Homo sapiens: one gene and its partners. The protein of the gene in region 2 interacts with the protein of the main gene of each other region in a pairwise test. Each region holds a gene or a part of one and is shown on either strand. Other genes may lie near its edges.

Region 1 (4,965 bases), on a different chromosome or scaffold from region 2:
TTGGCCAAGCTGGTCTTGATATCCTGACCTCAGGTGATCCACCCACCTTGGCCTCCCAAAGTGCTGGGATTACAGGTGTGAGCCATTGTGCCCGGCCTCATGGCTTGAAATTAACTTATTGTTGTATAATATTGGCAAAATGAAAGAGGTTGGGATTCATTTTTTTCAGATTGTAGGAAAATGCCTAGTTTCTTTCTAGGGAAGTAACAAGGGAAGAGAAGCTTCTTTGATTCTAGTTAGGAGAAAGCAGTTCTTTCATTTAATCCTTATTTTACAACTACTAAAAGCCCAAGATATTTCTTCCTATTTATTTATTTGTTTATGAGGCAGAGTCTTACTCTGTTGCGCAGACTAGAGTGCAGTGACACAAACACTGCTAACTGCAGCCTCAACCTCCTGGGCTCAAGTGATCCTCCCACCTCAGCCTCCCAAGTAGCTGGAACTGCAGGCATGTGCGACGACACCTGGCTAATTTTTAAATTTTTCTTGTGTAAGGATAAGGCCTCGCTATGTTGTTGTTTTCAAACTCCTGGATTCAAGCGATCCTCCCACCTCCACCTCCCAAAATGCTAGGATTACACATGTGAGCTACTGTGCCTGGCCAATCCTGGCACTTTGGGAGGTGGAGGTGGGAGGATCACTTGAGCTCAGGAGTTTGAGACCAGCCAGGACAACACAGCAAGATCTGTCTCTATCTTAAAAAAACAAAAGGCCGGGTGCAGTGGCTCACGCCTGTAATCCCAGCACTTTGGGAGGCCAAGGCAGGCGGATCACGAGGTCAGGAGATTGAGACCATCCTGGCCAACATGGTGAAACACCATCTCTATTAAAAATAGAAAAACTAGCTGGGCATGGTGGCGCATGCTTGTAATCCCAGCTACTTGGGAGGCTGAGGCAAGAGAATTTCTTGAACCCAGGAGGTGGAGGTTGCAGTGAGCCGAAATCGTGCCACTGCACTCCAGCCTGGGCGACAGAGCCAGACTCAATCTCAAAAAACAAACAAAAACCCAAGTGCTGAGATTACAGGCATGAGCCACCACACCTAGCTCTATTTAATTATTTTACTATTTTAATTTTATTTATTTTTTTCCTAGACAGAGTTTTGCTCTGTCACCCAGGCTGGAGTGCAGTGGCCCTGTCATGGCTCACTGCAGCCTAGACCTCCTGGGCTCAAGTGATCCTTCCGCCTCGGCCTCCAGAAGTGCTGGGATTACATGCATGAGCCACCGCACCGTCTGTTTTCTTCCTTTTTAACATTCTCCTGATTCTACAACGCTTACATAGGAGAGCTGCAATTCCTCCTCTTGGGGTACAAATTTATGAGTGCAGGTGCAGTTTTGTTACATGCCTAACAAGATTGCATAGTGGTCAAGTGGACTTTTAACCAAATGGGTTGTCAGGGCTGATTGCCAACATCTGGACATTTTAAATTACCAATCTGAAAAGGGAAACAGCTCTGTGCTTGTTTTGCATTTTGGTGACTATTGGTAATGGTTTTCTGTTTTGATATATTCAATCTGTTCAATCTGTATTAGTGCCTACTCTGCCACTGTGTTGGGCGGGAATCTGATTTTGTTCTTTGGTTGGAGATCCAAGTTAACCAGAGCTTAGGCATTTTAAGATAACTACCTCAGCTTGATAGGAAAGCTTGCTCTGCCCGGGGTTGAGGGGTACGGGTCTGAGGGCAACAGAATCGACAGCCTCAAGTGGGCAAAGGGTGGCCAAACAGGAGTGGCCTCCGACGTCACTGTGGCGCGCCGCTTCCGGTCTGCAGCCTTGTAGTGGGGCTGGAGCAGAGCCTGCCGCGAACCCCCGGAGCCCACGATCCCTCGTGCCATCCCTCGAATCCACCAGCACGAGCGTCCCACCCGCGCCTGGGACCATGGCCACTGACTCATGGGCCCTGGCGGTGGACGAGCAGGAAGCTGCGGCTGAGTCGGTGAGTTGGCTTCAGCCCTAAAAGGGTCAGGGGACTAGTTCTGGTCGGAGACTTGGTCCCTGGGAAAGAATGTTTCCCAGGTTGATTAGAGGCTGGATGGGGTGGCGGGGAGGATAGGGATGGAGCCTGGACCCTGAGCTGGCTTTGTTTACGCAGCCGCCTCCGCGTTACGTAAGCGCAGGTGAGTGCTCCTATCGGTAAAGCGCTCAGCTGCCTGTCTGTCTTCCTGGAACCAGGAAGAATCATAGATTGCACCCATCACCCTAGATTGTGTTTTGTTTGTTTTTAATTGAAATAGAGACATGGTCTTGCTAGGTTGCCCAGGCTAGTCTGGAACTCCTGGTCTCAAGCTATCTTCCTGCCTCGGCCTTTCAAAGCACCAGGATTACAGGCTGAGCCATTGTTCCTGGCCGCCCCGGTTTGTAATAGTTATTTTAGGTGTCATTCTCCACCTCTACATTCAGAGCTTCTTTGGCTCAGGGACCATGTCTTTGCTCATATTTGTGTGCTTCCTCAGTGATAAATGATGGACCCAGTAGGTGTGGCAGTCAGCAAATCCTTTCCTCATCGGCTTCACTTTGTTCTTTTTTTCTGGACCTGACACATGGTAAGCAAGAGATGTGTTAAACACTACTGCGTAGAATTAATTTCTCCCACCGAAACACTTTAAATCCTAGTAGGCTTTGAACCTACTTCTGTTAGTACTTATTGCTATGACTTCCTCAAGAATAAGAACCTTGTCTTTTATTTTTTATAGCTCATAAAAAATAAGTTGTATATACACATTGTTTAAAGAGTGAAGTTATTTTAAAAACAACGGTTCCCGCCAATTTTTTTCCTCCCCAGAGGCAACTCCTTTTTTTTTTTTGGAGACAGGGTCACACTCTGTTGCCCAGGCTAGGGTGCAGTGGAGTGATCTTGGCTCACTGCAGTCTCTGCCTCCCAGGCTCAAGCCATCCTCCCACCTCAGCCTCCTGAGTAACTGGGACTGTAGTCATGTGCCACTATGCCCAACTACTTTTTGTATTTTTTTTGTAGAGATGGGGACTTGCCATGTTGCCCAGGCTGGTCTCGAACTCCAGCGTGCAAGTGATCCACCTGCCTCAGCCTCCCAAAGTGCTGGGATTACAGGTGTGAGCCACTGCATCCAGCCTCTTTTTTCTGTTTCTTTCTTTCTTTACATATATTTTTTGAGAGAGGGTCTTGCCCTGTCACCCAGGCTGGAGTGCATTGACACCATCTCTTGCCAACTACAACCTCCCCTTCCCAGGCTCAAGTGATCCTCCCACCTCAGCTTCCTGAGTAACCGGGACTACAAGCATGTGCCAACATATGCAGCTAACTTTTTAATTTTTTGTGAAGACGAGGTCTCACTATATTACCCAGGTTGGTCTTGACCTGCTGGGCTCAAGCCATCCTCCCACCTCGGCCTCCCAAAGTGTTGGGATTATAGGCCTGAGCCACTTTGCCTGGCCCTTTACTTTTCTATAAAATTTATTTTACTTGGAATTCTTAATTGCCTTATGTTTATGCTTCATTTTTTTTTCTTAATTATCAATTCAACCCCAAACTGTCTTCCAGTTGTCTAAGTTTATCTCAGGATGCTTAGACTCATCAAGTATTCTATCAATTCCATTTCTCCTAGGCCTTTAAGTCTGCTTCAAATTGGACTAGTTACTCCTGTCTTTAGAGCACAGTTCATATTGGGGAATAGAGGGAACAGGGCAAATTTCCCTTCAGCCTCATTCTGCAGATTCCTTCCTCCTTTCTCTTGTCTTTTGGATCTCTTGGATCCCTTCCTTTCTGTACCCCTACTTTTCCATCTTTCTTGATTTATTCCTTATTTTAGTGCAGCCATCTGTCAGCTTTCTGGAGGTGTACGGGAAGTAAATTACTTTAAGAATATTCCATGTCTTAAAAAATCTAACTTTGCCCTGTAATTTGGATAATAGTTTGGCTGGGTATAGAATTGTAGGTTGAAAATTATTTTCCTGCCAAATTTTAAATGTATTGTTCCATTGCCTTCTAGATTTCTGTATTTGTTGTTGAAATGTTTGAGACCATCCTGATTCTTGATGTGACTTGTTTTCCCCTTTCTAAGCTTGGAGAATCTTCTGTTTGTCTTTAATATTCAGAAAATTTATGGTAATATGTCTTGGTATGGGTGTATTTTCATCCATATTACTGGCCCCTGGGTGTGGGTACTTTCAATCTGAAAAACTCTTGTTCTTCAGTTATGAGAACTTTTCCTGAATAATTTCATTGCTGATTTCTTCTTCTTTGTTTTTTCTTAATTCCCTCTTTTCCAGAACTCACTTTCTCTCTTTCTTTCTCTCTCTCTCTTTTTTTTTTTTTTTTAAGACAGTGTCTGTCTATGTTGCCCAATTTGGAGTGCAGTAGCTATTCACAGGCAGAATCATAGTGTACTACAACCTTGAACTCCTGGGCTCAAGTGATCCTCCTGCCTCAGCCTCCCTCGTAGCTGGGACTACAGGTGCGCACCACTGCATAGCTTTTCCCAGAACTCTTATTAGATGAATGTTGGATCTGTTGGACTGGCCCTTTAATTTTTTTTTTTTTTTTGAAATGAAGTTTCGCTCTTGTCCGCCAGGCTGGAGTGCAATGGCACGATCTTGGCTCACTGCAACCTCTGCTTCTTGAGTTCAAGCGATTCTCCTGCCTCAGCCTCCCGAGTAGCTGGGATTACAGGCATGTGCCACCATGCCTGGCTACTTTTTGTATTTTTAGTAGAGGTGGGGTTTCACCATGTTGGCCAGGCTGGTCTTGAACTCCTGACCTCAAGTGATCCGCATGCCTCAGCCTCCCAAAGTCCTAGAATTACAGGCGTGAGCCACCACACCTGGCCAGCCCTTTAATTTTTTTAAAAGTCAGGTTTATGGAGGTATAATTTACACAGAGTAAAATTAAACTTTGTTAGTGTACAGTTCTATGAATTTTGACAAAAGCATACAGTTGTGTAACTACCACCACAGGCAACACATAAACCCTCTCTACAAAGAACTACA
Region 2 (4,454 bases):
CACTTCATGACTCTGTGAGGTTATAGCCTCCCTGCCCAGCTGAGCGGTGATGCTCGCCTGGCTCCCACATCCTCTGTGCTGCCCTCTATTTTGGGTCACCCTGACTTGGTCTGTTTCCTGTCTTATTCACCAGCTAAACTATAATTTCCTTAAGGGTACTTTTATTTGTGGGCCCAGCACTCCGTACTATGCAGTGGGCCCATCTAGGTTTCTTTATTGAATGATAAGATTTTTGTAGAAAGTGGACCTTATGACAACCATTGACAAAAGCAAATGGCTACTCAACCACCCCAACCCCTCACCACCCCTCACCACGGTACAATGGATTTTATTACAAATTGCATACACCAGATAATTCTAATCTGATGTGAAGGAATTATTTTGCCTTTCTTCAGATTCATTCTCATGACATCAAGTTCATTTGAAATTGCATAACATCTTCAGGAATTCATTGGCAGGCTGCCTGGCAGTTGGATAATCATTTAATATATCTTTCTCTCTCCTCAGTTAATAACGACATGATAGTCACTGACAACAACGGTGCAGTCAAGTTTCCACAACTGTGTAAATTTTGTGATGTGAGATTTTCCACCTGTGACAACCAGAAATCCTGCATGAGCAACTGCAGCATCACCTCCATCTGTGAGAAGCCACAGGAAGTCTGTGTGGCTGTATGGTAAGCAAGCCTTTTAAGAAGTTATTCTTTCTTTTCCCCTTTTTACATAATGTATTCTCATAGTACACACAGTCAGTGTATCTCTGTCTCCTAAATGTAAACACCTGTTCCATTTCCCTTTCCTTTAGACCATCTCTCTTTCGATTATTAAATGTAGTTTCTAGGGGTGTTCTCTGCATGTATGTGTACGTTTATGTGGGTATATAAACGTATCATGATTATAAAATGATCATGATAAATGTAAAGATCATAAAATGATCTTTAATATAATAAATCTGGAAACTCTTTCTTGTATCAAGAAGAGGGATTTGCCGCTTAGTAGTCATTTAACCGACACCTCCTCAGCACCCCATAGTGAGACCAGGAGCTTTGTTCTCTTGAGGCAATCTCAGGTCTGGAAGAAGAGGTGATGAAAGGTTGGCTGTTGGAAGAGAAAACTACCAGCCAAAAATGGGGAATCTACTTGGAGAACCACAAAAACAACCTGTTTTTTTAGTCAGAAATTCTGGTTATATTATTCATATAACCATTGGGATAGATATGACTTCTTTCTCTCAGCTCAGAACTACATATTTCTTTTTTTTTTTTGAGATGGAGTCTTGCTCTGTCATTCAGGCTAGAGTGCCATGGCACAATCTTGGCTCACCGCAACCTCCACCTCCCAGGTTCAAGCGTTTCTCTTGTCTCAGCCTTTCGAGTAGCTGGGATTACAGGTGCCCACTACCACACCTGGCTAAGTTTTGTATTTTTAGTAGAGACGGGGTTTCACCATGTTGGCCAGGCTGGTCTCGAACTCCCGACCTCAGGTGATCCACTCGCCTCTGCCTCCCAAAGTGCTGGAATTACAGGCATGAGCCACCATGCCCGACCAGAACTATATATTTTTATCGGATCACATTTTCTCCTCTCTCTCTCTCTCTCTCTCTCATTCCCTCCAACTCATACATACATCTCAAATAATAATTATACATACACAGTGGATACTCATGAATCATTTGATTAATTCATGGTTATAGATTGTGAGCATGAACAAGAAATAACCTTGATCTTTAGAAGAGTTGTAATTTTACAAAAGTACATAAATTCATTAATGAGATATGACATTTTGCAGACTTATTCTGATGTTTTTAATTTATTGGCCATTTTAAAAAAAGTAACTTATGTGTCTCCTGGCTAGTTGACAAACAAGAATATAAACCCAAATATCTCTCCCCCTTTTTTGGGAATGAGTCATTTGAGACCCCTAGACCATGTAAAGCTAGCCTTGATGATAGATCTGGAAACCTTGCAAACTTCTGTACATACCACGGGATGAACTGGTTTCTTAAGAACTGAAGGAATGTTAACAGCAAAGACTTGTCATGACATACTTGCCAATATGATATGATACCTGTCCATGTCCACTTCTAGGTAACGCTTTCAAAGAAAGGATTTGGACAAAGAATGTGTTCAGAGGAGAGGGACCAGTGTGGTTAGAGGCCTAGAAATCATGCTGTCTGAGGAATGGCCTGGGCAATTAGACATGGTTAGTACAGTGAAGAGAGATCGTGGGTTCTGCTGATGAAATTGAAAGGCTCTCAGGTAGAAAATATAATAAACATATTCTGCATAACTCTGAAGGGTAGAGGGAGGATCCATAACATTTGCAAGGCAGGCAGACTTGTGCTCAGCATAAGTTTAGACATTTTCACAATCATGGTTTCCCAACAGCAGAACAGGCTTCCTTTTCTGTAAGCACCAAGTGAAGTTCAGGAGAGGCTGGATGACCATATGTCAAATAGAATGCAGGAAAGATTGAGACACCAGACTAGATGGCCTCAAAGCTTCCTTCCGTGGTTTCTTAAATATCTACGGTGGTGTGAGCACTTGCTTTTGCAACCCAAAAAGGCTCTTTTAATTAAGATTTTTGTTTTCCTGACCAGTAATACAAGCCCAAATCATTAAATGTGAATCAAGTCTCTCTAGAATAGAGGCTTTGCTAGCCTCAAAAAAATGTGAGCATGTCGAAGAGAGGAGGCCTCCCTGTCTTTTCTGTGTCCCAGCTATAAAGGGTAAATACAATGAACATTATTTTGACCTGTGCTGGCCAAAGAAAATTCTCCCGTGAAGCCAGGGGTGTTGATAATGAGAAGGGGAAGTATAGGGTACGCTATAGTGCCCTCCTTGATCCTCCTTCATGACCAAGGCACTCATTCCCTGGGAGTGTTGGCTGTTGAAGGATCACTGCTGAGCCTTCCCTCCAGTGATGGGAGCTGCCTCATTCACGTTGGACACTTTTCATGGGTAGCCATCATCCCATGGCTAGTTGATGCAGAGAAACAAATTCCTGGTTATTTTGCCATAATGTGGTACATCTTTGAAGGACATCCCATTTTCAGAGTTTCCAAGGCATTCACTGAGGCCTTTGCTGCAACCTGCATTATAGTTTAGCTTTTTCCTTCTGTGCAATACTGTTGCCTTTAGTCGCTTACAGATGCATCTCCAAAAACCTCCTGCACAGAACTCTCACAGCCTCAAGGTCTGTTTCCAGGAAACCTAAACTAAGACAGGAGGCTATTGTAAAAATAGCCAGTGTGGAAACTGAAAGGCTCTACTATGATTGTAGATTTCAGTGTTGTTGTTTTTTTAATCAGTTTTAGTGTTTTTTCATTCATTCATTCATTCATTCATTCATTTAACTAATGTCAGTTGTGTGCCCATTCCATATAAAATGCTTAAGCTGCCTCCAAGGATAGAAATATTTTATAACCAAAATTATTATTATTATTATTTTTAAATTGAGAGGGAGTCTCCCACTGTTGCCCAGGCTGGAGTGCAATGGCGTGATCTGGGCTCACTGCAACCTCTGCCTCCCGGGTTCGTGCGATTCTCCTGCTTCAGCTTCCTGAGTAGCTGTGATTACAGGTGCACACCACCATCACGTGGCTAATTTTTTGTATTTTTAGTAGAGATGGGGTTTCACTGTGTTGGCCAGGCTGGTCTCGAACTCCTGACCTTGTGATCCGCCTGCCTCGGCCTCTGAAAGTGCTTAGATTACAGGCATGAGCCACCGTGCCCAGCCTCCAAAATTAATTTTATCATGTTGGTTCTTCTTTCAGTGGAAATTGACAACCTCTTCAGTGGCTCAGAGCAAATGTTGCAGGACAAAAAAAGAAGTCCGTATTTACTTCTTTGTATTTACCTTTCCTATGCTCAGCTATATCCAAAAAGAGTTTGAAAAGTTAGCTGTGCCTGGCTGTTACAGGAGTGAGTGGAGAAAGCAGTTAAGGGCTTTACCAGGTCTCAAGTATTACAGTTGTTTTCTCTCTGTGATGTTAGTTCTCTCAGTAGCTAAGAGGTAGAAAACCGGAGGCTCTGGAAGAGCTGCCCAATAATTATAGAGCAGCTTTCTTTCATGGCTCACAGTTCCTTCTTAGGCCTCTATAAGCGTCACAAGGAAAAGAGACCATGCCTTTCTGTGGGCACAGCATACCTTCGTTTTATTACCCAAACCAAAAACAACCTACACACACACACACACACACACACACACACACACACACACACAAAACTGTGGGGGCAGGGAGGAAGGTGTTCTTGTTCCATGACTACAGCTGATTTGAAGACTGCCAAGTAGCTTTGGGGTTAAAGATGGGTAGATTTCCAAATTATACATCATTTGTTGTATGATCATGCCAACTTTCATTTAGTTTCATTTGGTGTCCTGATAGCCACCCTCAACCAATTATTCTGCTTGTCACTCTTCCTGTCACAGCAGGGACCAACTTAGCAAAGCCTT
Region 3 (4,454 bases), on a different chromosome or scaffold from region 2:
GGCAGGTTTTTAAATGTAAATTTGCTAGTTCTCTGGATTGTCTTTCAGTGTTCAAAGTCAAAGACAAAAATCAGGCTTTCAAATTGACATTTTAGGAAGCATCCCCCTTGAGAACTGGAACAAGACAAGGATGCCCACTCTTCCCACTCCTGTTGAACACAGTACCGGAAGTGCAAGCCAGAGCAATCAGGCAAGAGAAAGAAAGAAAAGGCATCCAAATAGGAAAAGAAGAAGTCAAACTATCTCTCCTAGGAATCCCTAAAGACTGCCAAAGACTTTTGGAACTGAAAAATGACTTCAGTAAAGTGTCAGGATACAAAATCAATGTACAAAAATCAGTACCATATCTTTACACCAATAATGTTCAAGCTGAGAGCCAAATGAAGAACATAGCCTAATTTACAGTACACACACACATACACACACACCCCTTGGTTTCACCTCTAACCAAGGAAGTAAAAGGTCTCTACAAAGAAAACTACAAAACGCTGCTGAAATAAATCATAGATGACAGAAACAAATGGAAAAACATTCCATGATCATGGATTGGAAGAATAATAAAATGGTCAAACTCCCCAAAGCAATCTACAGATTCAATGCTATTTCTATGAAGCTACCAATGGCATTTTTCACAGAATCAGAAAAAACTATTCTAAAATTCATATGGAAGTAATAAAGTAATAAAGAGCCCAAATAGGCAAAGTAATCCCAAGAAAAAAGAACAAAGCCAGAAGCATCACATTACCTGGCTTCAAACTATATTGTAAGGCTACAGTAAGCAAAACAGCATGGTACTGGTACAAAAACAGACACATAGACCAATGGAACAGAAGAAAGAACCCAGAAATAAAGCTGCATTCCTATAGCCAGCTGACCTTCAACAAAGTAAACCAAAATCAGCAATGGGGAAAGGACTCTCTACTCAATAAATGGTGCTGGGATAACTGGCTATCCATATGCAGAAGAATGAAACTGGACCCCTACCTTGTTTGATATGGAAAAATTAACTCAAGATGGATCAGAGAATTAAATGTAAGACTTCAAACTATAAGAATCTTAGAAGAAAACATAGGAAACACCATTCTGGACATTGACTTTGGGAAAAATTTATGACTAAGTCCTCAAAAGCAATGACAACAAAAGCAAAAATTGCAAGTGAGACCTAATTAAACTGAGTAGCTTTTGCACAACAAAAGAAACTATCAACAGAGTAAACAGACAACCTACAGAGTGGGAGAAAATATTCACAAACTGTGCATCTGACAGAGGTCTAATATCTAGAATCTATAAGGAACTTAAACAATTGAACAAGTAAAACACCAATAACCCCATTAAAAATAGGCAAAAGAAAGACATGAATGGACAGTTCTCAAAAGAAGACATACAATTAAAAAAAAGAAGACATACAAGCAGCAAAAAAAAAAAAAAAAACATGAAAAAATGCTCCACATCACTAATTACCAGAGAAAGGCAAATCAAAAATCACGAGATACCATCTCATATAAGTCAGAATAACTATTATTAAAATTTAAAAATATTTGGGTGAGGCTGCAGAGAAATGGGAATGCTTATAAGCATATATACACTGTTGGGAATGTAAATTAGTTCAGTCACTGTGGAAAGCAGTTTGGAGGTCTCTCAGAGAGCTTAAAACAGAACTACCACTTGACCCAGCAATCCCACTACTGGGCATATATCCTCAAAAAACAAATTATTCTACCAGAAAGACACATGCACCCGCATGTTAATTGCAGCACTATTCACAATAGCAAAGACATGGAATCAACCTAGGTGCCCATCAACAGTGAATTGGATGAAAAAAAAAAAGGTACAAATACACTATGGAATACTATATAGCCAAAAAAAGAACAAAATCATTTCCTTTGCAGCAACATGGATGCAGTTAGAAGCCATTATCCTAAATGGATTAATGCAGTATCAGAAAATCAGATACCACATGTTCTCGCTTATAAGTGGGAGCTAAACAACAGGTACTAATAGACATAAAGATGGCAACAATTGATACTGGGACTGCTAGAGTGGAGAGGGAGGTTGGGGGAAAGGGTTGACAAATGAACTGTGGGGTACTATGCTCAGTACCTAGGTGACAGGATCAACTGTACTCCAAACCTTATCATTACACAATATAACCAGGTAACAATGTGTATATGTACCCCCTGAATCTAAAATAAATGTTGAAAAACTCTCAAACCCAAATTAAATATACATAAATAAATTTACATTTTATTAAAAATGTATTACTACTCTAGATTTGCCTTACAGGAAAGTCAAAACTTATTTTAAGCTTAGCCTATGATTATATACATTTGTACGTACAAGTTTAAAAATATCCAAAGTCATAAAATTTAACAAAAAAGGTAAAAGCTACTTACTGGGCATTTATGCTTCACAAACTAGTATTAACAGCACCTTTCACTTTGAAATACTTTTTTTCGAAGTGAAAAACACATTTTTCTTATTTATCTCAGCCTCTTATCACACTTTTGTTTGGTTGCACAAGAATGTCATCACATTCTTTACTCATGGCAATGACATTGATTCTGCTGATTTAACACCTTTGCTTTACTGAAAGAGTATTGGTGACTAAAGGAGGACCATTATTGCTCTTTAAAAAATGTTTAATCATAAATAGATGTGTCCAGGGATATCTTAACTGTATGAGGTATGATAGGCTTGAAATTATAAAGCACAGCTTTGGAATACACCCCTCCACAATCCTTAACCACTCAGAAAGTCTTACGTTAATACATATTATTTTTTGAACTTTATGAAAACTGCATTGAATAATTATCACACTTCCTACACACCAACTTGTATTTAATGATTTATGGAAACATTACTAAGACAAAAGAAGGACATAGCCTTCACTTGACTAATTCTAAGACCAAGGCTCCCTATGTTTTAACTTCTGTAAACTCTCACTGCCTGAATAAATACCTTAGGTATAATGAAGCGTAGGCAAATAATAGATTATAAATAAGTTGACCGAGGTCAAGAGAGGCATTTAACCTATTTAACCTATTTGGGAAAACAACCCATTTTCAAATTTTTAACAGCAGTAAATGGTAGAAAAGTATACTAATTAGAAATAATCATTTACTAAAGCAAATCTTTGAGGAAGTCTAATGAGTAGTTTCTTTAGCCAATTGCTTGTATTAAAGGACTGGAATAACTTTTGAATATTCAGAATTTTCACAAGTTCAGACTTCCTTCAGTTGGCCCTATTTAATGAGTTTTTATGCTGCATCTTGTATTTCTGAAAATTGAGTTTTTGTTTGTTTTGAGGCTGAGAATTTTGAGAACTGTCATTGTCAGACCAATGTCTCAGGAATCATTAGGAAAACAACTCGGGGTGGGAAGGTGGTTAGATGATGTCGTTGAGTGATCTTTATGGAAGGGAAATTTGTGAGAGATTTTCTAAATAAAGATGCAAGATTTTCATTGCTTTAGATATGCTAAATTTTTTTCCTGGAATCAGTCAGACCTTGAGATAGCTCTTTACCCAGCTTGTGTTATTTTGGTCCCTGCAGAAGTGCTTTTGCTGATTTGTGCTTACCTGTTATAATATTGGCTGGCATTGAGAAACTTGACATTGTATTAAGTTCAAGGATGTTATTTCTCTCTCTTTTTTATTATACTTTAAGTTGTGGGGTACATGTGCAGAATGTGCAGGTTTGTTGCATAGGTGTACACATGCCATAGTGGTTTACTGCACCCATCAACCCGTCATTTACATTAGGTATTTCTCCTAATGCTGTCCCTCCTCTAGCCCCCCAGCCCCCCAGCCCCCGACAAGCCCCAGTGTTTGATGTTCCCCTCCCTGTGTCCATGTGTTCTCATTGATCAACTCCCACTTATGAGTGAGAACATGCGGTGTTTGTTTTTTTGTTCTTGTGTTAGTTTGCTGAGAATGATGGTTTCCAGTGTCATCCATGTCCCTGCAAATGACATGAACTCAAGGGATGTTATTTCTTGTGCTGATCACTGTTTTTAGAATCTGTATTATGAGGATCTCATGGATAAATTTCTCTGAAATGTCGCTAGCCAAAATGAACAATGTCACTCATGGAACTCATTGTGTTTTCCACTATGGGTAGACAGGAAGTCTCAGAACTAATGTTGAGCTCACTTCTTGCTCAAGGTTATGTCATCATAAGTCATGCACTTGATTCATTTTGTTTCTCATATTCTTACTCTTTCTTCTCACTGTCTCTCTTTATACACAGTCATGCATTGCTTAAGTATGGGGCTACATTCTAATAAATGTGTCATTAGGTAATTTTGTCATGCAAACATTGTAGAATGTACTTATAGAAACCTAGATGGTGTAGCCATATCTAGTTATACACATAGATAGGCTATATGGTATAGCCTATTGCTCCACTCCTAGGCTATATATCTGCACAGAACACCACTGTATTAAATACTCTAGA
Region 4 (3,500 bases), on a different chromosome or scaffold from region 2:
AGAATAAAATCCAAAGTCCTTAGCACAATAGATAAGGCCTTTCATGATCTGGTTTCTGTCCAATCTTTCATTCCTCATTTCTTAACACTCCTCTTACATATTTTGCTCTAGTCAAATCAAACTATTTTACACTCCTAGCATGTTCCATGTGGTGACATCTTAATGCCTTTACACATGCCAGTCCCTCTGCCTGGCATTCCTTTTTTTCGACCTGGTGAACTACCACTTGTTTTAAAGGCTCAGTTCACATGCCATTGTCTCTTGGCTGTCTTCCCTGAACTTCCTGCCTAGAGAAGGTGCCTTCTGTTCTACCATAGCACACTGTGTATACAGACATTGTGGCCCTTCCTACCTGAAGTGCAAGAGTCTTTTTTGTGTAGCTCCCTCCAGACCATGAGTTCCTTCAGGACAAGGACTGAGGCCTTCCTCTCTACTTCCATGACACTGTGTGTATGCTACCCACAAAATAGGCAATCATAAATGCTTATGGATGGACAGATGGATGGATCCCCTACCATCCTGTCTTTCCATAGTTCTCCAAGACACCTGCCTCCACCAAAGCCAGAGCCTTCTCTCTGTTGCAATCTGAAAATGGCCCCCATTTTTGAGGCGGTAATGAAAAATCATTTCAAGGCCTGTCCAGATGGTTGCTAGGGAATACTCTGGTATCCAAATCAATGTGATATATGATGACCATTACTACCACCTCCAGAAGGAACTCAGCACCAATTAGGCACTTTCTATTCTCTCAGCCACTGACCTCAACCACAGCTGGCACCATCAACATCTGGGTGTGAGGTCGTAGACTGCCAGGTCTCTACTGCCCATACTGGGGGTGGTCTAGTAAGAAAGGTGTGGAGTTACAACGAAAAGAACACAGGTTTTAGAATTAGACAAATCATTGTCTGAATACAACACTGTCACCTACTAAGCTGTGTGGCCTTGAGCAAGCCACCTTACTTCTTTGAACCTCACTTCCTCATCTGTAAAATGGAATTGATGACTATATTTGCTCACAGGTTGATAAACAAATGAATATAATAGATTGAAAATGATGAACACATTCCATGGCCACCAAAAGCTTTCAACATGATTATTTTGGTTTATGGAGAATAATAAGGTTCATTCCTTATATACCTCGTATTCTTCCTTTTCTTTAACTAACGTTTATTAAGACCTCCTTTGTGCCAGGCATTGGGCATGGTGCTGTACTATGAGCAAAAATAAGTAACATCCTTGCTTCAGGGAGCCCTGGTGGGAAGGGACACCCAGGCTAGCAAGGGATACAGACAAATAAACACCTAATTAATTCACAATGTGCAATATGCATTAGTGCTCTGAGACCCTGGGGTCAGGTGACCCCAGGATCAATTTTAAAGCATGGAGAAGCTATTCTCATAAGTAACAATATTCTACAGAAAACCTATCTGTTGGCTAAGACACAGGCAGAGAATCCAAGGTAAATTGTTAGCTATGAAATCCTAGTCTTATGTATTATTCTCCCTTTCTCTTTTCTCCATTCTACTTATTTCTAGGATGGTTGACAAATCAAGAGAGTAAGGGGCCAAATTCAGGGCACCAACTATTAGCCTTGCAAGATTTTATTTTACTTTAATTTTTTGGTGCTATGAAAAGCACAATGTTTTTCCTCTTCTCTGTAAAGAAAATTAGAACTAAAGATGGCTCAGCAGATAAAAGCTGTGGGTGGTAAATACTCCCACTATTCCCCACCGCCTTTCAGGCTTCTAAGTTTCTCTTTGCATTTACTGCATCTTAGAGCTGGAAACCCGAAAGAGCCCTGAGAAATTCTATGGTGAAAACCCACATCCCAATTAACAGATGAACAAATTGAGGCCCAGGGTGGCCAAATGATCTGCCCAAAGTTAAATGAGAGAGTGAATCAAAATTAAAATACAGTTCTCCTGAGCCTCCCCTTTTACTAGTCTGCAAATCTCTCTGCTCCCTGGGTTTTAGGCACCTTAACCCAGGCAAGTTTCTTCATATGCAGCCATTTCTGGTGAACGCTAGGGCTGTCTCCACTTCTGAGCATCCTGGAAGCCACGGAAAAACCACTTCTCTTCTAATGTCACTGGCTCTCTCCTCCCAGAAACATCCTGTTTCTTACTAATGAGATACTTTCAGATCCTCCTCTTTGGTTTAAGAACCATGTCTGCATGAAAAGTTTGGTTAGAGGTGTTTTTCTCAAATTGACTCTCAGAACTACAAATTTCCTGGCTGACAAAGCTCTGTGGCTGAGGTTGCTATTCTGCAATTAACTTAGTCTTAAAAGAACTTTCATGGATACCCTACACCCCCATGGGATAAAACCATAATTCATGCTTTAATATTGAGAACATCAAGACCCTGAAAACAAAGGGAATTCCCAATTTCATACACCGTTGACAACAGGAAGGGAGCCTGGGGTAGCCCTGGTCCAACTCTTTCAGGAAACCGAGCCCTCGGAGGGGCAGAGGCAGAGCTACTGACCTGGACTCCTGGTTCAGTGCTCTTTCCCACCCTTTGAAATGTCACCCCAGCTCTTGGGCTGAAGCAGCTGCGCCATCAAAAATGTCACATCAGTTATGACAACACAGTTTGTTATATAACTGGTGCTGCAGAGCAGGCAAGGGGAAGAAGCCATGAACATGAACCACAGCACCCCCCTTCTGCTTCTCAGGGTGGCTAAGTCCCACATACTTACTTGACAAGAGAACTCCACATGGGAAGGGAACACCCACTAATCAAAGGAATAAAAACTAGAGCTAACATTTGTATAATGATTTCTACATTCTAGACACTACTCAAAGCACATTTCATATGTTAACTCATTTCATGCTCTCCACAATCCTATTAGTAGTTATTTTCATTATCAGTCCCATTTTACAGGTAAGGAAACTGAGGCACCAAATGTTATGGGCCTTGTGTAAGGTCACATATTTAGTTAGCAGTAGAGCCAAGATTTGAAGCCAGGCAGCCTGTTTGCAGAGTCTATGCTCTTAACCAACTCTCAATTTTAGAGAAGCATGCTAAACTGCTTCTCTAAACACAAGAAACTACCTATTTATCTGAACCAGTTAACAAGCCACTGCTCTCTCCTCTCCTTCCCCTCAGTGCTAATCACAGATCTGTTGGACAGCTTCCTTTCTACCAATGCTGTGTGTGAATGAGAGGGATGGAAGAAAATAAGAATGTGACACAGATTTGAAGAAATTCTTAGGATGGAGTTCATTTGAGCATCTTCAAGCTTTTTAAGATGATGCAATCAGTAAGAAAGTGAGGTGAGTGCTCTTCTCAACATCTGCCATTTGTAAACCCACACTCTGTGGGTATGTACAAACAGGCACACTTTCTTTTTTCAGAATCAAAAGTTTTCTCTATTAGTGTCAATTCTGAGGGTAACTCTTTCCAAAATGTGGTTTTTTTTGTTTTGTTTTGTTTTTTTCAGTTTGGAATCACCCCTTCACCAGCTTTTCTGTTGTCTTTCAGATCAAGATGTATTC
Region 5 (5,193 bases), on a different chromosome or scaffold from region 2:
CAGTTCCCCATGAGAAGTAAAACAACACTTAGAGAAACTTACAACCATGATGACAGAAAGATTTTACAGCAACTTAAGAAAAGCAAAAAGACAAAATGGTTCAGAAAAAAAAAACACCTAAGAAAAATCTATAAGGAGCTGATAAAAATGTGCCATAAACTAGATATGGAGCTGCTCCAGGAAAGAACCAATAATATGCCTAAAAAAATTTTGTAGTATTTGAAGTTCATACCTTACAACAAGCTTGCCCAACCCACGGTCCGTGCGGCCAAGGACGGCTTTGAATGTGGCCCAACACAAATTCCTAACCTTTCTTGAAACATGAAGAGATTTTTGTTTGTCATTTTATTAAAGCTCATCAGCTATAGTTAATCTTAGTGTATTTCATGTGTGGCCCAAGACAATTCTATTTCTAATGAGGCCCAGGGAAGCCAAAAGATTGCACACCCCTGGCTTAGGTGATATTATTTATTCAACACCATAGATATGTGTGTGTGTGGGGGGTATATATATATGTATATGTGTGTATACATACATATATGTACCATATATATCATATATGTATCTCCTGCTTCTAAGAGGGAGGAACTTTTCCAAATAGAAATAACATAGGTGAAATGTAATTCTTATCCTAACCATGAACAAGCAAGCTTTTTTGGAATCTTTGAGTGGATGTAATTTTATATTCCCCTTTATCAAACACTGACCACAGGGAATATTCCCCTCTAATAAGCTTCTTTTGTAGCTTTTTTCTGAAAAACTGGACAAATGTAATGTGGGAGTCAGACAGCATGTGTCACTAAGCTGAGAGCAGTGACATATGCAGGTGACATTCGCATGTCCTGGCAGCATTGTCCAGCAAAGTCTTCCTTTCTTTGGGGATGGACCCTCCCTCCTCACCTGGAGCAGCTCCACGTCAGGCATGAGGCACGTCTCCCACAGCTCTCTGTACATGTCTTTCATCCTTTCTAAATGTTGGGTCATTCTCACTTGACTGTCTTGTAGTTGTTGGAAAAGCTATTTGGCTTCGCTGTCCAGTGCCTGCAGATGAAGTTGCTTCTCCTCATCGAGAAATAGATGCATCTTTTGATATTGAATATTGATTATCACCTTACTTAATGACACATAGTTCTGCGGAGACATTTGGTTAAAAGGATTACATACTCTCACTCTCAACAGAAAACTTCAAATAATTATATGCTGGGTGTAATCAAGCAATCTATAAACTTTCTGCCTCACTCTTGCAAGGAGTCTTGAATATTTGTTATTTCTTTCTGTCCTTCTTTTTCAATGTTCCTATTCTCTCTCCCTCTTTAAATCAAAACCTATATAAAGACTTCTAGTTTCTCTTCCTGAGATGCTTCTTCACAGTTCTTACTGAGTCAACTATCTCCTCTATTAATCTCCCTTTTAGGATTTTTCCATGTCTGATTCGCCTAAATATTAAAAAACATTTAGCCATACACCATATTATGCAGATTGATTTTTCCTTTTACTGTATTTTTACTCTATATACTATTTTATATACTATTCTATTTCTTTCCTCTTCCTTACACCCAATCTTGGTGAAATGTCTCATCTCCAGTGTCTGAAAAGGTTTATACCAACCTTCAAATTTGAACTAGAATACATATCATACCATTTATCCAATAAACTAGAATTAATTTGGTTAGCTTGTGTGGGCTTCTCTATTTGCAATTCCTATTATATCAATTATATCAAACCCCCTCTCTACTAAAAATGCAAGAAAAAAACTAGCCAGCGACAGAGCCAGACTCCTTTCAAAAAAAATAAATAAATAAAGATAAAACTTCTGTTCTGAAGAAACTTAATCATCTATGTTAACACCCACCTACGCCCTGTGAAATGCAATCAATTGGAAGAAAGGGGTGTGGTCTTCAGAGATTTATAAACCGACACTTCAGGAGCCAAGCTCATTCTTCTCCAGAGCCCACAGAGTAGCTTTGCAACTGGCTTTGGGGACTTCCGAAAGCTACCAGCACTGCACTGTGAGACTCTCATCCCTGAGCTGAATTCATCTGATTCGACGGCAAGCTTTGGTGAGAACATAGATATATTTCTGAGGTAAGTACACAATTTCCAGAGTAGGAGCTACTATTAGGAGCTACAAACCAAAACAAAATTTGGGGACTTTAATTTATCTGCAAACTTAGATTATTTTTAGATGAAATGATCTCATTTTCTGAGTTTTAAAAACGGCTCCATTTCTTTTTTAAAATTATTTTAAACATAATCCATAGGTTTATGGATTAAACATGGGCCACCATGTTCAGCTATTTATTTATTTGTTTATTTATTTATTTTGAGATGGAATCACGCTCTATTGCCAGGCTGGAGTGCAGCGGCGCTCTTGGCTCACTGCAACCTCCGCCTTCCAGGTTCAAACGATTCTTCAGCCTCGGCCTCCAGAGTAGCTGGAAATATAGCCGCCTGCCACCACGCCCAGCTAATTTTTGTATTTTTTTTTAGTAGAGACGGGATTTCACTATGTTGGCCAGGATGGTCTCCATCTCTTGATCTTGTGATCCGTTCACCTCCGCCTCTGAAAGTGTTGGGATTACAGGCCTGAGCCACCGCGCCCGGCCTTTTTTTTTTAAATTTATATAAGTATTTTTAGAGACAGGATGATCTAGACACTTTGCCGTGTCACCAGTCTAGAGTTCCTGAGCTCAAAAAACCTGCCTGACGGCCTCCCAAAATGCTGGGATTACAGGCTTGAGTCACCTTCCCTGGCTTGGTTTTTATTTTTATTTGTATTTTAGCAAAACATACATTTAAAACGCTGACTTACTGTCTAGTGCCTAGTTTTTGTTTTTTTTTTTTAGAGGGGAGACAGAGTCTTGCTCTGTTACCCAGACTGGAGTGCTGTGGCACTATCTCGGCTCACTGCAAGCTCCGCCTGCCGGGTTCACGCCATTCTCCAGCCTCCGCCTCCAGAGTAGCTGGGACTACAGGCGTCCTCCACCACTCCCGGCTAATTTTTTGTATTTTTTAGTAGAGTTAGGGATTCACCATGTTAGCCAGGATGGTCTTGAGCTCGTGACATCGTGATCTGCCTGCCTCAGCCACCTCGGCCTCCCAAAGTGCTCGGATTACAGGCGTGAGCCACCGTGCCCGGCCTCTAGTGCCTGTTATTGCATGATACTTACTCTTTTCCTGACTGTGTGAAAGAGTAATGATAATGCTTCAATTATCATTATCTTTTTGTAAATTGAATTAATTGTCTTTTAAGGATGTTGTAATATTAACTAGTATATCCCCAAATTAACAGACTGTCCAGGAACAGTAAACATGCCAGAAAGTTTTTGTTGATTAAATTAACATAGTAGCCTAGAAAAACAATGATTCTTAGCTTTACCTTGGAGAGGTGCCTTACCTTGATTTGACTGTTTTTCCTTGGAGAGTAAAGGCTAGCTTTTTCTGATTTGGGTCAAAGTATGAGTTCTGCTCTAACATTTTCAAGCAATGTCCTTCTGGAAAAGTCATTATGGATGGTTGTTATAGTTAAATAAAATAATGAGAGTAGAAGAGCTTAGTTAGCTTTCCTTCTTTAAACCAATCACTGGCAATTAAGAGTGTTACTGATTTTCAGACCATTCAAGACTCAAACCTTGAGTTTACAGGTTGATGAAACCCTTGAAGCCCAAGCAATTTGGTGGATACTAACACCTCAAAAAATCCGACATTCTTCCATGCAAGAAAGTAGAGTTTGGAAAGCTGGTCATGTGTTGATTGGAGAACAGTCACTTTTTATAGAGGTTGATGTCTCTTTGTGCCTTAGTTTTCTGTTTTTCCTATTTCTGTCATTGCAGATTAAAGCCTATACTTCTTTAGAAAGAAAGGATATTATTCGATCACGATCTGATTCAAACTTTGCTTGGATCTTTGTCTCTCCAGGGTAGAAGATTAAATTCCTGTGGTTTTCTTTCCTTAGGAAAATGGACTCAGACTTCTCACATGCCTTCCAGAAGGAACTCACCTGCGTCATCTGTTTGAACTACCTGGTAGACCCTGTCACCATCTGCTGTGGGCACAGCTTCTGTAGGCCCTGTCTCTGCCTTTCGTGGGAGGAAGCCCAAAGTCCTGCAAACTGCCCTGCATGCAGGGAACCATCACCGAAAATGGACTTCAAAACCAATATTCTTCTGAAGAATTTAGTGACCATTGCCAGAAAAGCCAGTCTCTGGCAATTCCTGAGCTCTGAGAAACAAATATGTGGGACCCATAGGCAAACAAAGAAGATGTTCTGTGACATGGACAAGAGTCTCCTCTGCTTGCTGTGCTCCAACTCTCAGGAGCACGGGGCTCACAAACACCATCCCATCGAAGAGGCAGCTGAGGAACACCGGGTAAGAGATAGCTCTGTGATCACCTGAAAGCTGGAGGGTGGCAGAGTTAAAGATATTAGAAGGATGATGAGAATCATGGTGATTACTCCATTCTTTACTGAGTGCCAGGTGCTGTTCTAGGTACCAATGATGACATTTTGAATAAAATGTGCAACTCTACCTTCCTTCATGGAGCTTGCACCCAAAAAGAGACTGATTAAGTAAATGTCATTATTATTGACTCTACAGTTCAATGCTAATGACATTGAAAAGCTACCAAAACTACCAGTGCAAAGAAAGGTATTTTGGAAATATATTTAATATTACTGGACAAATGAGTATGGGAGTAGCACACTACAAAATCAGGGGCTAGCATAGTGGGTTCTGAAGCAGGATGTTTCCCTGAACTAATTTAGCTGGGTTACAGGAAATCTTCACTCTTCAGTTCCCTAAGCTGTTCTACATTCTGAAACCTCAAACTGAAAAATATCAATTAAGGATGAGCAATGAAAAATTTTGTTTTTTTCTCCTCTCACTAATGTATTTATATATTATCCCTTGCCTGTGTATACCACTCAGATTGTGGAATCTTTGGCATTTGACTTTCTGTTGTTCAACCTTGTAATTCTTTTGCAGGAGAAACTCTTAAAGCAAATGAGGATTTTATGGAAAAAGATTCAAGAAAATCAGAGAAATCTATATGAGGAGGGAAGAACAGCCTTCCTCTGGAGGGTAAGTATGAGACCGTGAGTCCTCCTGACCAGCTTGAGACAGGCATGCTGACAACATTTATATTAGCAACTTGAGTTGAAATTCTTATGCCAGATTTTGTCATGTGTTTATT
Region 6 (4,454 bases), on a different chromosome or scaffold from region 2:
TCTCTACTAAAAATACAAAAATTAGCCAGGCGTGCTGGCAAGCACCTGTAATCCCAGCTACTCAGGAGGCTGAGGCAGAAGAATTGCTTGAACCTGGGAGACGGAGGTTGCAGTGAGCTGAGATCGCGCCACTGCACTCCAGCCTGGGCAACAGAGCAAGACTCCGTCTCGGGGGAAAAAAAGAAAAAGAAGCCAGACGTGGTGGCTCACGCCTGTAATCCCAGCACTTTGGGAGGCCGAAGTGGGTGGATCACCTGAGGTCGTGAGTTCGAGACCAGCCTGACCAACATGGAGAAACCCTGTCTCTACTAAAAATAACAAAATTAGCCAGGCGTGGAGGCGCATGCCTGTAATCCCAGCTACTCGAGAGGCTGAGGCAGGAGAATTGCTTGAACCTGGGAAGTGAAGGTTGCCATGACCTGAGATTGCACCATTGCACTCCAGCCTGGGCAACAAGAGCGAGACTCCGTCTCAAAAAAAAAAAAAAAAAATAGAAGGAATCAGGGACTATAGGGAGGCTGAGGAAGGAGAACCACTTGAACCCGGGAGGCAGAGGTTGTGGTGAGCCGAAGTCATGCCACTGCACTCCAGCCTGGGCGACTGAGCAAGACTCTGTCTCAAAAAAAAAGGAATTGGGGGTTCTCCTCATGATTAAAGAGGCTTGGGTGCTCTTGGGTACACCCCCCGCCCCACCCATAGGTCCAAAAGCTGTTCTGATGTGGGCCCACTCCTCAAGAGTGACAAGCAGGGCTGGGCTTGGTGGCTCACGCCTGTAATCCCAGCACTTTGGGAGGCCGAGGCGGGTGGATCACGAGGTCAGGAGATCGAGACCATCCTGGCTAACACGGTGAAACCCCATCTCTACTAAAAAATACAAAAAGTTAGCCGGGCATGGTTGCAGGCGCCTGTAGTCCCAGCTACTCGGGAGGCTGAGGCAGGAGAATGGCGTGAACCCGGGAGGCGGAGCTTGCAGTGAGCTGAGATGGCACCACTGCACTCCAGCCTGGGCGACAGAGCGAAACTCCATTTCAAAAAAAAAAGGAGTGACAAGCATCACTTGGCAAGGGGGCAGGAGTGGGAGGGTGAGAGCAGATGGAGGACAAGGTAGCAAGGGAGGAAGGGGAGTATGGGGGGGCCTCGTGGGTCTCTAGTCACCCACGCCGTGTCAGCAGTCACTCTTCTCTGTCCCCAGGCATCCTAGGACCCAGTGGCTTTCTCCTCCACATGACTATCATTGCTCACTGACCCCTGCCCTGATGCTGCCACCTGAGCCCCTCCCCTTTGCCCCCACCCCTCATCAGGCCCTACCACAGCCATTGTATTCAGGGGATCACTATTTTTGGGTTTTTTTTTTTTGGAGACGGAGTCTCACTCTGTCATCCAGGCTGGAGTGCAGTGGCGCAATCTCGGCTCACTGCAACCTCCACCTCCCCGGTTCAAGCAATTCTCCTGCCTCAGCCTCCCAAGTAGCTGGGATTACAGGCTTGCACCACCATGCGCAGCTAATTTTTTTGTATTTTTGGTACAGACAGGGTTTCACCATATTGGCCAGGCTGGTCTCGAACTCCTGACCTTGTGATCCGCCCGCCTCGGCCTCCCAAAGTGCTGGGATTACAGGCGTGAGCCACCGTGCCCAGCCAGGGATCACTATTAATCTCCACACATGAAGAGACATATTTAAAAAGAAGGAAGGAAAAAAAGGAAGGAAGAGAGGAAGGGAGGGAGGGAGGGAGGAAAAGCAAGGAAGGGAAAAAGGAGAGAAAAGCAAGCATGAGAGCCAGACGCGGTGGCTCACACCTATGATCCCAGCACTCTGGGAGGCCGATCGCTTCAGCCCAGGAGTTTGAGACCAGCCTGGGCAACATAGTGAGATGTCATCTCTACAAAAAATTTAAAAATTAGCCAGGTGTAGTTGTCCATGCCTGTAGTCCCAGCTACTCTGGAGGCTGAGGTAGAAGGATCACTTGAGTCCAGGAGGTCAAGGCTGCAGTGAGCTATGATTGCACCACTGCACTGCAGCCTGGGTGGCGCAGCAAGACTCTGTCTCTAAAAGGAAAAAAAAAAAAGAGAGAGAAAGAAAAGAAAAACATGGATGTCCCACAGCTATAAATGTGACCAGGGTCTCGGGGGTTACCTCTAGTTTGAAATATAAATAGGGCTGGCTTGATTTTTTTTCCCATGTCTTTTTTTTTTTTTTTTTGAGATGGAATCCCACTCTGTCGCCCAGGCTGGAGTGCAGTGGCGCGATCTCAGCTCACTGCAACCTCTGCCTCCCTGGTTCAAGTGATTCTCCTGCCTCGGCCTCCTGAGTAGCTGGGACAACATGCCCGGCTAATTTTCTGTATTTTTAGTAGAGACGGGGTTTCACTGTTTTAGCCAGGGTGGTCTCCATCTCCTGACCTCATGATCCGCCTGCCTCGGCCTCCCAAAGTGCTGGGATTACAGGTGTGAAACACCGCGCCCAGCCTCCTCCCATGTCTTGATCTCACTCAGGATCAAACTCAATCTCATCAAATCGCCTCCGAGCACTCAGAGTGGCAGGGACACTGAGAGGGACTTAAAGAATAACTGGGCAGCTGATAGAGGGCGTCGAAGGCTCTCAGGGTAAACCAGGGGAGGGGAAGAGAAGGAGGAGAGAGGGAGGGTGAATGAGTAGGTGGGGGAGAAGAAATGAGGAAGGGTGGGAGGCGAATGCTACAGCCGTGAAAGTTAGGGGAGACTCCATGTGCTGGGCATACAGGAAGTGCCCAGCCCAGCTCAATACTCAACACGCATCGTCCCGCAGTATCACCCACTGCAGCTCCCCGCGGCAGATGCTGCCATGAGCTTCATTTTACAGAAGAGAGGCCTGAGGCTCAGGGAAATTAAGGGACTTGGCCAAAGGGACACAGCTGGTAAGTGGCTCAGCCTGGATCTACACCCAGGTTTATTCATCGCTTCACAGTGACAAGAAAGAGGATGACAGAGAAAGGCAGGAAGTACAGGGAGAGAGAAAAGGAGAGCGGAGGCCAGGGAGCAGGCTGGGGGTCCAGGAGGGCAAGGGCAGGACGCTCACGAGGCTGGTAGCTCTGGTAGACAGAGGCCACTTCGTCCGCGAGATCAACTAGCTCACAGCCCCTCAGTGCCGCAATGAAGTACTCCACCCAGCCGGGCCGCCGCTGAAGGGTATTGAAGAGATGCCAGAGGGTGTCCCGGTTCCCTGAGAGTGTGCAGGTGGCCCGCAGTCGATCCTGGAAGACACAATGCCACTGTCCTGCTCAAGCCAGGTGGCCCCTGCCACTTCCCCACCCAGAATGAAGCCACAGCGGGGGGAGGGGTGCCAAGAAAGCCACAAGGGCAAGGCAGCCACGTGAAACTGGATCGGAGCCCAGGACAGGGCCAGGTATGGAGTGAGGAAGAGCAATTAGCAGCCACATCAATAAAGGCAGCTGCCGGAAACTGGCAATTAACTATGTCCTGGGCTCTCCATTAAGGGCTTTGCATGTATCATCTTTATTTAATGCCATTATTATCTCCACTTTACTAATGAGGAAACTGAGGCTTAGCAGAAGCAAAGTACTGTAGCAAAGATCCTAAAACAGTGGGGCAGGAATCCAAACCCAGTTAATCTGATACAAAAGCCTTGGATTAATATGGCCCCCAGGGCAAAAAGAAAGGTTTGGATTAGGAGAGAAGGAAAAGGTAGATAGCAAAAGTATGATGAAAGGGGCAAAAGACGGAAAGAGAGGGGGCCGACAATAACAAACAAGGAAGCTGAGAATGCTGGGGAGATTGTGGGCAGATGACAGTGGCTGCAGAGTTTTTTTGTTTCTTTTTTTTTTTTTTTTTTCAGACGGAGTCCCACTCCGTCGCCCAGGCTGGAGTGCAGTGCCGTGATATCAGCTTACTGCAACCTCTGCCTCCTGAGTTCAAGCGATTCTCCTGCCTCAGCCTCCCGAGTAGCTGGGATTACAGGAGCCCACCACCACACCCGGCTAATTTTTTTGTATTTTTAGTAGAGACATGGTTTCGCCATGTTGGCCAGGCTGGTCTCGAACTCCTGACCTCAGGTGATCCACCCGCCTTGGCCTCCCAAAGCGCTGGGATTACAGGCGTGAGCCACCGTGCCCAGCCCTAGAGTTTTTATGTCTACCTGAATTCTCACATAAAAACAAGCAACCAGACAGCAGAAACAAAAACCCACAGAATCCTGCAGGAGCTAGATTTTTAGAAAAAGGAAAATAGCCAGGTGCGGTAGCTCACACCCGTAATCCCAGCACTTTGGAAGGCCGAGGATCACAAGGTCAGGAGTTCAAGACCAGCCTGACCAACATGGTGAAAGTCCGTCTCTACTAAAAACACAAAAATTAGCCGGGTGTGGTAGCATATACCTGTAATCCCAGCTACTCAGGAGGCTGAAGCAGGAGAATTGCTTGAACCCAGGAGGCAGAGGTTGACCCAAGATGGCACCACTG
Region 7 (4,454 bases), on a different chromosome or scaffold from region 2:
ATATAGGTAGCTATAAAATTTAGGAACTATATGTTCTCCCCCACTGCTTTAGAGTAACCTCTGGATTTTTCCCAAGGTAAGTTAATATAGTTTAATTCTCAATAAATTGTTCTCTGTGACTAGATCCTACCCAATAAAAGAAAACAGAAAACAATAGCAAAACACAAAAATCAGTATCAAATTAGCACTAACACAAAACTAAGATTTCTTGTTTTCCTTATAGATGTTATTTATGTTGACAAATTAGAATTTGATTGATTTTTATACTAGGCAACCTCAGGATGTCAGTTCCTTGTATTGCCTTGAGATGGTCTAGGACCAATAGCAAGCTCTTTTCCAAGAGATTGCTGGGTGGATAGGAAGGATCTGAGGGGCCTGAAGGAAGTGGAGGCCACCACACACACACACACATGCACGTGCACGCGTGTTTTCTTCCTTATATCCCAACTTTCTCAACATTGCAGTCTGGAACTTATTGGATTCCAGTGAATTAAGGGAAAACTTTTTAAAAGAAGGCATTTAAGCCCTTGCCACAATCACTCTGTCCCCGTGATCTCTATCTTTCCCTCCCTCCCAAGTTCCACTATATAAGGACTGGCACGGTGGCTCATGCCTGTAATCCCAGCACTTTGGGAGGCCGAGGCGGGCAGATCACAAGGTCAGGAGATCAAGGCCATCCTGGCTAACATGGTGAAATCCCATCTCTACTAAAAATACAAAAAATTAGCCAGGCATGGTGGCACACGCCTGTAGTTCCAGCTACTTGGGAGGCTGAGGCAGGAGAAGCGCTTGAACCTGGGAGGCGGAGGTTGGAGTGAGCCAAGATCACACCACTGTGCTCCAGCCTGGATGACAGAGGGAGACTCTGTCAAAAAAAAAAAAAAAAGAATCTGCTGCCTTGTTGTTGGACCTGTAGGTTTCCGGACCTAAGACTTCTTTTAACTAGACCTGTATTTCAGGTCTCATTCCTCTCCAAAACACTCACCATCCTTCTGCCTCCTTGCCCCACATACACACTTACATGCTATACAAGCATCTGGGTTGCTGTAACTGAGGTTTGTTGGGTCAGACAGCATAAGGGTAAAGAGTGGGGAGGGAGAGGGAAGAAGGCAGAAGTAGAAGAGGAAAGAGAAGAAGAGGGAAGGGGAAGAATATAGTATCCCCCCCAAATCACAGATTCCTTCTGTTCCTTAAAAGAGGATACATGATACATTTAAATAGCAGTTTAAAAACAAAAACAAAAACAAAACAAAAACCCTACATTTTCTAAATGTTTGCATTTACCATTTCCTGATTGTCCGTTATCACAAGGAGGTGTGAGTCTCTGGCTAGGCAGAATTCCAGACTAGAATTCCAGTCCTTTTCCTCCACTGAGAAATAATAACAATGGTTACCATATTTCATCCAGCGGTCTGGGCAGCTAGGACAGCTGGCACAAGTGGAGTAGTTGGAGCCTAGGAGAGAAGAGGACCTGGTTCACATCTTTATGGACCACTCAGTCTTGGAAATGAAATGGGAGATAAAATGGAATATGGCAGCCCTGGGTCTTCCCTGCTCCACCACTTTTCAGATTAAGGGTTAGAGAAATGTGTAACAATGCGTGGTGTCAATTTGAATACCTCATAATGTCCTCATAATGTCCAACTCCATCATCTACTAAGTATATATTCCACTACACAAGAATATGACTATAACTGAAGGAACAAAGAAGAAAGCATACAACAATCTGCCTGAAAACTCTGGAGCAAGTACTTGACTTGTGCTAGAGATCTCTGTGCACATGTAATATACACACACCAGATAACTGTGAATTCATATGATATGCATCTGTGTACTGTCTTTGCTCTGTGTATATATTGCATAATTGCATAATGTATATTGCTTAAATCAGGCAGAATCATTCAGAATGCCCAACTGAAAATGCCAAAAAGAAATTAGGAAAAGCAAACTTAACTAGAATGAAAGGTTTTGCTTTTTTATTATCACAGATGTAACTGTCCCTCACCATTGAAAACTGGAAAAAAACCCTTATACCTCAGCAAAAAGAACTTACTTTGATATTTTTCAAAAGGGTTTTCTGGCAGAGAAGCATAACAGGTGCTAAAGTGAAAAGTGATAGAATGCCCTAACCGAGCTCTTTTAAATACGGAAGATCCACATTCCTTTAAAATGGTTGGTTCATAGTTCTGTCAAGATGAAAGGGAACTGACCAGGCATGGTGGCTCACTCTTGTAATCCCAGCACTTTGGGAGGCCGAGGCAGGTGGCTCACATGAGGCCAGGAGTTCAAGATCAGTCTAGCCAACATGGTGAAACCTCATCTCTACTAAAAATACAAAAAAATCAGCTGGGCATGGTGGCACCCGCCTGTAATCCCAGCTACTTAGGAGCTGAGGCATGAGAATCACTTGAACCCAGGAGGCAGAGGTTGCAGTGAGCCAAGATCACACCACTGCACTCCTGCCTGGGCGACAGAGCAAGACACTGTCTCAAAAACAAACAATCAAAGATGAAAGGGAACTGAATATGCTTTCAAGGTAATTCCAACCAAGATTCCAAAATTCTATTGATTTTTCTACTTCAGTTTCAATACTTAAACATATGTGCATAAACTCGCCATAAGCACAATTCTACAGTGAGCAAGTATGAGCCATTATACTCCATGAGCACATGTGTAGATATATAATTGCAGAATAGAGTATATATCTACTCTAGATTTGGGAGTTACAAAGTGGGGAAAGTAGTATTTTTCATATAAATATTAGATAATTGTTCTCTAGGAAGTACTGGCATACAACCAATATAAGTTCTGGAGATCAAGCTGTTAAATTGGCACCTTATAGATTTTGCTTTTTCCATACAACTGTGACATTACTCAGCCTGGATTAGAAATTCCCAACTTCCCTAGGAGTTCCTTTTTGTCAAAGGTCGGACTTGGCTCTGAGGTAGAAGCCCTGGAGCTGAACTCTTAGAATCCTAATAAATCGGCAGAGCGCAATGGCTCACACCTGTAATCCCAGCACTTGGGGAGGCCAAGGCGGGCAGATCACAAGGTCAGGAGTTCGAGACCAGCCTGGCCAACATAGTGAAACCCCGTCTCTAATAAAAATACAAAAAATTAGCTGGGCGTGGTGGCAGGTGCCTGTAATCCCAGCTACTCGGGAGGCTGAGGCATGAGAATCGCTTGAACCTGGGAGGCAGAGGTTGCAGTGAGCCGAGATCACGCCATTGCACTCCAGCCCAAACAACATTGCGAGATTCTGTCTCAAAATTTTTAAAAAAATTTAAAAAAGAACCCTAATAAATCACTTCTGTGTAATCGGTCACTATCATCCCCTAAAAATATAAACCTAAGCTAGGACTCTAGACTGTAAAACAACAAACTGAGAGTCCTCTAGATCACCAGATTTAAGGTCCTAGAAGAACTAAACTTAAAAATTAGTTTTAGAAAATGTGAAAGCACCTGAATGGCAAAAAAAAAAAAAAAAAAAATTCAGAATGTTTCATTACATTATGATATATCTATTATGTGAAAAGTTAAACATCATTAATATTATAATTCAATCATCCCAATAAATATGGCAGTAAGGAAATGTTTCTGGCAACATAAAATTAAAAAGCAATATACAAAATTATGAGCATACTACGATAAGAACTATTCTCAGCCTTGCATTAAAAGAAAGAAAGGTGGGAGAAATTTTAAGAGGACTTGACTGCAGTTCTATTAAGAAAATATGGTCAGGTGCAGTGGCTCACACCTATAATCCCAGCACTTTGGGAGGCCAAGAAGGGCAAATGGCTTGAGCCCAGGAGTTTGAGATCAGCCTGGGCAACATGGTGAAATGTCTTTACAAAAAAAAAAAAATAATAATAATAATACAAAAATTAGCCAGGCATGGTGGTATGTGCCTGTGGTCCCAGCTACTCGAGAGGCTGAGGTGGATCACTTGAGCCTAAGGAGGTCAAGGCTGCAGTGAGCTGTGACTGTACAGTGGCACAGGATCCGCTGGTATAGCAGCACACAAATCTATCACCTACAGCCTGGCTGATTGAGGGAGACCCTGTCTCAAAAAACAAAAAGAAAAAAGAAAATACAAGCTTACACAAGTGCACATGGTCAAAGGCTATACCCAGGAAATAGCTGTATACAGATGGAGAGTTATTTTGTTTGAATTATTTTTTGATTTTTCAAAGCTTCTGCTATGTTATATTGCTTTTATAATATAAAATGAAAGATTAATTTTGGTTTAAGTTTGCACTTACCCTGGCACAGGATCCACTGGTATAGCAGCACACTCAGAAGAACTGCAGTCAGAAGCCCCAAAGCTATTGCCACAAGGCAAGAACAAGAAGGCCTGGAAGAGGAAGCTGCAACAACAGAGTCAAAGCACAATCCTGAGTCAGATGACAGGTTGAAAGAAAAGAGAAAGTCAGGGAAGGATATCGCATCTTAAA

What was found.
Region 1: the proteins of TGFBR2 (region 2) and DDX19B interact in binary tests that used the Homo sapiens proteins (3 or more experiments, as listed by UniProt).
Region 3: the proteins of TGFBR2 (region 2) and SLC44A5 interact in binary tests that used the Homo sapiens proteins (3 or more experiments, as listed by UniProt).
Region 4: the proteins of TGFBR2 (region 2) and GNAO1 interact in binary tests that used the Homo sapiens proteins (3 or more experiments, as listed by UniProt).
Region 5: the proteins of TGFBR2 (region 2) and TRIM43 interact in binary tests that used the Homo sapiens proteins (3 or more experiments, as listed by UniProt).
Region 6: the proteins of TGFBR2 (region 2) and MAVS interact in binary tests that used the Homo sapiens proteins (3 or more experiments, as listed by UniProt).
Region 7: the proteins of TGFBR2 (region 2) and KLRG1 interact in binary tests that used the Homo sapiens proteins (3 or more experiments, as listed by UniProt).

What each region holds. Positions count from the first base shown.
Region 1 is NC_000016.10:70,297,416-70,302,380, forward strand, and holds the start of DDX19B (ATP-dependent RNA helicase DDX19B), read left to right. Parts: upstream 1-1,770; 5' UTR 1,771-1,882; coding exon 1,883-1,939; intron 1,940-4,965. UniProt on the Homo sapiens protein: ATP-dependent RNA helicase involved in mRNA export from the nucleus.
Region 2 is NC_000003.12:30,644,240-30,648,693, forward strand, and holds part of TGFBR2 (TGF-beta receptor type-2 isoform B precursor), read left to right. Parts: intron 1-507; coding exon 508-676; intron 677-4,454. UniProt on the Homo sapiens protein: Transmembrane serine/threonine kinase forming with the TGF-beta type I serine/threonine kinase receptor, TGFBR1, the non-promiscuous receptor for the TGF-beta cytokines TGFB1, TGFB2 and TGFB3.
Region 3 is NC_000001.11:75,600,731-75,605,184, reverse strand, and holds part of SLC44A5 (choline transporter-like protein 5), read left to right. Parts: intron 1-4,454.
Region 4 is NC_000016.10:56,197,989-56,201,488, reverse strand, and holds part of GNAO1 (guanine nucleotide-binding protein G(o) subunit alpha), read right to left. Parts: intron 1-3,500. UniProt on the Homo sapiens protein: Guanine nucleotide-binding proteins (G proteins) function as transducers downstream of G protein-coupled receptors (GPCRs) in numerous signaling cascades.
Region 5 is NC_000002.12:95,590,065-95,595,257, forward strand, and holds the start of TRIM43 (tripartite motif-containing protein 43), read left to right. Parts: upstream 1-1,936; 5' UTR 1,937-2,085; intron 2,086-3,955; 5' UTR 3,956-3,959; coding exon 3,960-4,370; intron 4,371-4,985; coding exon 4,986-5,081; intron 5,082-5,193.
Region 6 is NC_000020.11:3,856,411-3,860,864, reverse strand, and holds part of MAVS (mitochondrial antiviral-signaling protein), read right to left. Parts: intron 3,231-4,454; coding exon 3,056-3,230; intron 2,047-3,055; exon of another isoform or gene 1,923-2,046; intron 1-1,922.
Region 7 is NC_000012.12:8,992,119-8,996,572, reverse strand, and holds part of KLRG1 (killer cell lectin-like receptor subfamily G member 1), read right to left. Parts: intron 4,368-4,454; coding exon 4,263-4,367; intron 1,455-4,262; coding exon 1,285-1,454; intron 1-1,284. UniProt on the Homo sapiens protein: Plays an inhibitory role on natural killer (NK) cells and T-cell functions upon binding to their non-MHC ligands.